2 linked regions of the Homo sapiens genome follow. The protein of the gene in region 2 interacts with the protein of the main gene of each other region in a biochemical or structural test. Each region holds a gene or a part of one and is shown on either strand. Other genes may lie near its edges.

Evidence for each region. The genes of interacting proteins can lie anywhere in the genome.
Region 1: the proteins of FAT1 (region 2) and MPP2 interact in a test that uses a peptide from one of them, tested with the Homo sapiens proteins (one large-scale study listed by IntAct).

What each region holds. Positions count from the first base shown.
Region 1 is NC_000017.11:43,897,537-43,901,036, forward strand, and holds part of MPP2 (MAGUK p55 subfamily member 2), read right to left. Parts: intron 3,089-3,500; exon of another isoform or gene 3,017-3,088; coding exon of another isoform or gene 2,935-3,016; intron 845-2,934; coding exon 726-844; intron 1-725. UniProt on the Homo sapiens protein: Postsynaptic MAGUK scaffold protein that links CADM1 cell adhesion molecules to core components of the postsynaptic density. In CA1 pyramidal neurons, required for synaptic KCNN2-containing channel function and long-term potentiation expression.
Region 2 is NC_000004.12:186,713,857-186,717,356, forward strand, and holds part of FAT1 (protocadherin Fat 1 isoform 1 precursor), read right to left. Parts: intron 1-3,500.

The sequences.
Region 1 (3,500 bases), on a different chromosome or scaffold from region 2:
GCCCAAGCACCCACATACAGCCCCCAGTGCCCTCCAGACCTGCCAACCTTTGCACAGCTCGCATTGTCTTACACTTGAGGCTCAGCCTCACACCAGCCCTTCCAATCCCCTGCACACTCCTGACTCTTTCTTACCTCTGTGCTTCTGCTCAAGCTCTTCTGTGGCCCAGAATGCCCTCCCCCTCTTCCTCATTCTTCCACTCAGCTCAAGTGGTCCTTCCTCCAGGAAGCCCTCCTCACCCACCCCAGGCTGGGTTAGACACCTGTCCTTTATGCTCCCAAAATGCATAGTGTATCCACCTCTATCACTGTCATTACCAAATTGTCCTATAATTTTCTCTTTTAGTCAATCTCTCCCCAACCTGATACATGGCAGGTGACCTTAGAAAGACATACACACAAAACGCCCAAAGGCAGAAGGACAGGCAAGATGAATTCTAGAGATTCTCCAACATGTGCATGCTAGCCCGCACCAATCACACACTCCACAAGCTGGCAGTCAACAAACATCCACCCACGCACTCACCAGACAGGTGTGGGGGCAGCCCCCTCTACCTGCAGCCACTCAGGTCATCACCTGGGCATGATTTTCTTCTACAATCCCCTTCAGGGGGGCCTCTTGTGCCACATGTCCCATTCCCAAAGCCCTCTGTAGCTAATACCCCATCCCCTACTGTGCCTCCCCAAGCACAGTGCCCTTGTGCCCACCTCCCTGGAGCACTGTACCTTGGCCAGGGATCTTACTATGGGACTTTCCATAATGCCTCGAAGGAAGATCAGGTCCAGCTCTGCAGCCCCCGTGGCACTGGGGAGGGATCCCAAGTTGTCCAGGACTTGCTGCATGGCTGGGGGAAGGTACGGGCAGTGAGATACACAGGTACCAGCTGGGTACAGAAGACCAAAACACACCACAATACTTGCCACTTCCCCACCCCCATGTCCCACAGAAGGCAGCCCCTCCCCGGCAACATTCCCCTCCCTGCCCAGCACAGGCACCCCAGGCCCTTGAATGCCTGGGACAGGGATCCTGGAGGAAGGGGACAATTTCCTTGGCCTGTTCTCTCCACCCTAGGTAATGCCAGCCTGAGCAGGTGGGAGGCTCCAGGCAGCTGGAAGAGACTCTGAGGTGGAGAGAAGGGAGAAAGGGAAGCAGGTGTCAGGTTGCAGATCCTGCCCTGCACCAGAAAACCACAAGCTGTTGGGTGGATCACTTGAGGCCAGGAGTTCAAGACCAGCCTGGGCAACAAGGCAAAACCCCATCTCTACTAAAAATACCAAAATTAGCCAGGCATAGTGGTGTAGGTCTGTAATTCTAGCTACTCAGGAGGCTGAGGCAGGAGAACTGCTTGAACCTGTGAGGCAGAGATTGCAGTGAGCTGAGATCACGCCACTGCACTCCAGCCTGGGTGGCAGAGCAAGACTGTCTCTGGCCGGGCGCGGTGGCTCACGCCTGTAATCCCAGCACTTTGGGAGGCCGAAGCGGGTGGATTGCCTGAGGTCAAGAGTTCAAGACCAGCCTGGCCAACACAGGGAAACCCTGTCTCTACTAAAAATACAAAAAATTAGCTGGGCGTAGTGGCAGGCGCCTGTAATCCCAGCTACTCGGGAGGCTGAGGCAGGAAAATCGCTTGAACCCAGGAGGCGGAGGTTGCAGTAAGCTGAGATCCTGCCATTGCCCTCCATCCTGGGCGACAGAGCAAGACTCCGTCTCAAAAAAAAAAAAAAGAAAAAGAAAAGAAAACCACAAGCTCCTCACTCAACCTCTAGATGGGCTGAAGCCCAGGGCTCAGCCACCTGTACCTGGCAGGCTCAAGGATGAGACAGACAGTACTCGGAGCAAGTCCGTGAGTACAGGCCCAGAGTCAAGCAGGCAGCCACACAGGAGCCAGGGCCTGCAGCCTCCAGTCTAAGCACCACTAATTCAGTGTGACATTGTACAAGTCACTGTCCCTCACTGGCCTCAGTCTTTCCTGCCTGTAAAATGGATGGATTGGGCTAGATGATGTTTACAGGCCTTCAGCTCTGAGTGACAATGATCTATAATCACTGAGAAATTAACATGGATGATAGGAAGTCAAAGCTGAGGCCTGGAACGCTGGCAGGAGCTAGGGAAACAGGCACTGGAGGCCTTGGTGTGACCCAAAGGCTGAGGTCACACCAAGTCATCACAGGGATAAGCAAACTCTCAGCCCGAAATGGGACATAATGGAGGACACGATAACACCTGCAGCTGGGCCGCAACAATGCCCCCGAGACCTGAGGTGAGGGCTGCCTTCACTCACTGACAGAGGTGGGAGTTCCAGGCTGTGGCAAGTTCCGGGGAAAGGAAGCGAGAAGCAGAATGTGCCCAGCTGGGGGCAGAGATGGGCGAAGGGTATCATTACTCTGCCACCATGCCGCCCATGCCTACATCTGCATAACAGTACCCAAGCCACGGAGGACGGCGGAGGATGCACCCCTGGCGCCTCTCAATGCTCTTGTCAGTGCCCCCCTCCTCCAGGAAGGAACAGGAGTGGGGAGGAGGGGGCACTGGAACTGGAGCTGGCAGAGATGGTTCAGGGACTCCTGGACTCCCATCTCCTTCCTCCTCCTGCTCCCTGCCTTCTCCAGAAAAAAAAGTGCAAGCTTGCCCTTCAGACCCCTCTTGCCCAGGCCGGGGCTTGGCATTGGTCAGAGACCTGCGAGGCCCTCAGTGGGCTCTGAAAGAGGCCAGGGCAGGGACCCTTCCCTTCCTGCCAGGGTATGCCAGATTCCCTCCGTTATCTAGGGGAGGACTGAGCCAAGGGAGTTGGTGCCCTCTGCCCAGGACAGCTCTCCTGAAGGTGCCCTCAGATGACCTCTCCCAGGCCACCCTCCCCAGATGCCCCGACTCTGCTGGAGGAAGGTAGGCTAAGGGGCCAGCTGCCCCGCCCCCATCTGGCCCGCCCTTCCCTACCTTCCCTCTGGAGCTCCGCTTCCTCAGAAGACTCCAGGGATATACCCTCCAAGGAGACCCCGCTGCCTGGGCTGCCTGCCATGGCGGCCCCCAGACCCGGGGACTCCCGGAGCGTCCTACACGCCGCCGTCTACCGCCTCCCCAGCCAAAGCCTGGCCGGGCTGGGGAAGGCGGGAGTCGAGGAGCGCCCTCTGAGGAACCAGCCAATGGGAAGGCTCAGCCGCCGTGACCGCCTTGCTGATTGGCTAAAGCCCTGACTGGCGCTGCGCGGTGCAGAGCAGGCGGTAACCCGGGTGGGAGAAGAGTGGTGGGAGGGAGCCCTAGTCCCACAGATTGCCCGATCCCCAGCATGTCAGTGTCGGTGGGGATGGGGAGGAGGCGGCTAACAGGAAGTTTTGAGGAGGGGGTAGGCATGCTGCCCCTTCAAGACTGGCGCGGTACTCCGAGACCCTCCCCTCACAGCCAGCTTCAGGAGACCCGAGGGAGAAAAGTCTTGGCCCATCTTGTCCCTGTACCCTCTTTTCTAGAAGCCCCTCCTCTAATACACCCCATGCCACCTCCTCCCT
Region 2 (3,500 bases):
TTGTATTTTTTATAGAGACGGGGTTTCACCACGTTGCCCAGGCTGGTCTCAAACACCCAGGCTCAAGCGATCTGCCCAACTCGGCCTCCCGAACTGCTAGGATTACAGGTGTGAGCCACTGCATCCAACCTGAATCTTTTTTTTTCTCAAGATCCGTCTGGACTCATGGATAAAGGACAATTTTTAGGACTTTAGAGTTTAGTATGAATCAAATGAGAAGTCCCCCAGCGGATTCTGAACCGAGGAGTGCCACGGTCTCAGTAAAATGGAAAAACCTGTGGGCAGCCAGGGCAGAAGCTGGAGGGCGACCAGAGCAGTCAGAGGCTGCAGCCACAACACAGGTGGAGCGCGTGTGGGCTGGGGCACAACGGGGGTGGGGGGCAGATTGTGAATCTATTTCAAGGTTGCCTGATGCTGGAGTGGGGAGAGGGAGGGAAAGGAGGAGAGAACAGTACCAGAGAAGATGCCAAAGACTGCTCAGCGTAGAGAACAAGGGGGCCAGGAACCGAGAGGGAGACAGGAGGAGAAGCAGCCTCAGGGAGCAGATCGGGAGGTCAGTTTTGGACAGGGTAAGATGGGAACAGCTACGGGCTATCCAAGTAAAGATTGTGAGTGGGCAGCAGATATGTGGGAGACTCCAGCCGGCAGATAGAAATTTGAGAGTTGTCTAAATATGAAAGACGGTATTTAAAACCACAGAACTGAATGAGATCACCAAGGAAGAGAGCAGGCAGAAGAAAAAAAAAATCCAAGAGCAGAACCCCAAGATTTGAAGGGTCCAAACGGGAGGCCCTGACAGGGGAGATGTCGGCCACTGAGGGAGGAAAGGGAACCACAGCATAGTGGTGTGATAAGAAACAGTGAGTAAATAAAGATTTTTCTACAGCTGAAGCCTAACATTAGAACTTGGAGTTCTATATAATATAAATACTCACTAATCCAGCTGGGCGCGGTGGCTCACGCCTGTAATCCCAGCACTTCGGGAGGCCGAGGCAGGCGGATCACGAGGTCAAGAGACCGAGACCATCCTGGCCAACATGGTGAAACCCTGTCTCTACTAAAAATACAAAAAGTAGCTGGGTGCGGTGGTGTGCGCCTGTAGTCCCAGCTACTTGGGAGGCAGAGGCAGGAGAATCGCGTGAACAAGGGAGACGGAGGTTGCACTGAGCTGAGATCGCACCACTGCACTCCAGCCTAGGTGACAGAGCAAGACTCTGTCTCAAAAACAAAAAAAAAAGTACTTGCTGATGCGCCACGCTGCTTCCCCCTCCATCCCCCCACCAGAAGGCTCTGGCACTGTTCCATCCCCTAAGACACACAGACCATGGCCAACACGTCAGACTGCTTTGGCTGTTCTCTCCCCATGCTGTCCCAGGTGCTCAGTCCCACCACAGCCCCCACCACCACCCACTCATCCCCAACTGGATTCCCAAACATGCAATTACCTTCCACATCCTACTCAGCAGTTCTCACGGGACACAATACAGCTGGGACGGACTTGTGGACCACATTCCTAACTGAAATCTTTGAAAAACCTGAATGTACTCTGCAAACTTGGCTAACAGAATGCTACTGTGAGTAGAATAAATTATTAAATGAAAAAATACACTTTTTGGAAGACATTGTTAACCGTGCAGTAATGTAACCAAGAACCACGAATTCAGGTTTCACTATAAAAACCACCCTGATCAAAACAATGGCTGTGGCTCTCATGCAAAACAAACAGTAAAGCTGAAGCGGGGAGAGACTCCAACACCATTTCATCTAAAAAGGACCTTATCGCCTAGACTCCTTTGCTTATGGAAATTAAACTCCAAAGACCATCTGAGCCAAGGGCTATACTTTGATATTTAGAAGGTGATCACACTACTTAAACTCACTGCAATTTGGGATTTCTAAAATGCATTTTCCGAAGCCAAAACAAAGAGTGTTTACTTAGTCTAGCCTTGAAGGAGAAGGGCTCCCAGTCTAAAGCTTAAATATCTTTAGCATAGATCTCTGAAAATCTATAAATACGGCAGAAAAATAACTTTTGCAGTAAAAATCAGATATTAATATCTTCATATTTCTTCATTAGGGAGACCTTCATGTAAAATGCTTCCATCAATTACTGTGACTGCACATTCTTCACAAAACAGAACACAGCCCCTGTGCTGAAAACCTAACTGCATATATTCAAGTGTTTAGATGACCTCAAGCTCAAGTCTTCGAAGGGTTTCACACGCCACAGAGACAGGACATTAGGTGAGACACAGCATCACACAATGCACCAATTCTGTTAAACGCCGCATATTTATTACTGAGCGGTCACAATTCTTACAAGCACAAGTAGTCATTCTAGCCTTTATGGAACAGGACATTATTAAACTTTTCATTTCACATGTTATGATAAAAACACAAAATTATTAAGTTGAGAACTCTGTGTTCTCCCTCACTGTGCTCTTCTCCACTCTCATTTTCTATCAACATAGTGAAAGCGTCAGTAGAATTTAACTCATGATTAAAATTTGGAATTTCGAGTTCAGTTCAGTGTCACATTTTTAAAGTATTTTTAAGAGATCTCTAAATTGCAAGCATCTTTCTTCCCCCGAGACAGGGTCTTGCTCTATCTCCCAGGCTGGAGAGCAGTGGCACCATCATAGCTCACTGCAGCACCAACCTTCCAGGCTCAAGTGATCCTCCCGCCTCCGCCTCCGGGGTACCTGGGCGTACCACCATGCCCAGCTAATTTTTTGTATTTTTGTAGAGATGGGGTTTCACCATGTTGCCCAGGCTGGTCTCGAACTCCTGAGCTCAACTGATCGACCTGCCTGGACCTCCCAAAATGTTGGGATTACAGTTGTGAGCCACTGGGCCTGGCCGGCAAACACATTTTCAAAGCAGGATCATGAAGTTGTCAAGAGATTATGAATTGTAAACGAGTTTTTTTGTTTGTTTGTTTGTTTTGGAGACAGTCTTGTTCTGTCACCTAGACTGGAGCACAGCGGTGCAATCGTGGCTCACTGCAACCTCTGCCTTCTGGGTTCAAGCGATTCTCATGCCTCAGCCTCCTGAGTAGCTAGGAATACAGGCATGCACCACCATGACCAGCTAACTTTTGTATTTTAGTAGAGACGGCCAGGCTAATCTCGAATTCCTGGCTGCAAGTCATCCACCCACCTCAGCCTCCCAAAGTGCTGGGATTACAGGCATGAGCCACCGCACCCAGCGTAAATGGCTTTTTAAAAATACTGTATATTAAAAAGAATGTTGAATGATTTCTAAAATTTCAGACATTCCAAATAAAATTTACAACAGGAAAAAAAAAACTCTCTATTTTTCTAGTTCAATTATCATAGCCATGTCGGTACTTTTAAAAGCTTTCATCCTTACACTGAAATACTAATGAGTAGATCCTGTTTATTTTCTGGGTGTACACTAATTCTTTTCAACCCATCTTCATATGATTTTCAGCATGAACGGAGGAAGCTGTGACCCTAGAAATTGAGCAGCAGCCTTAG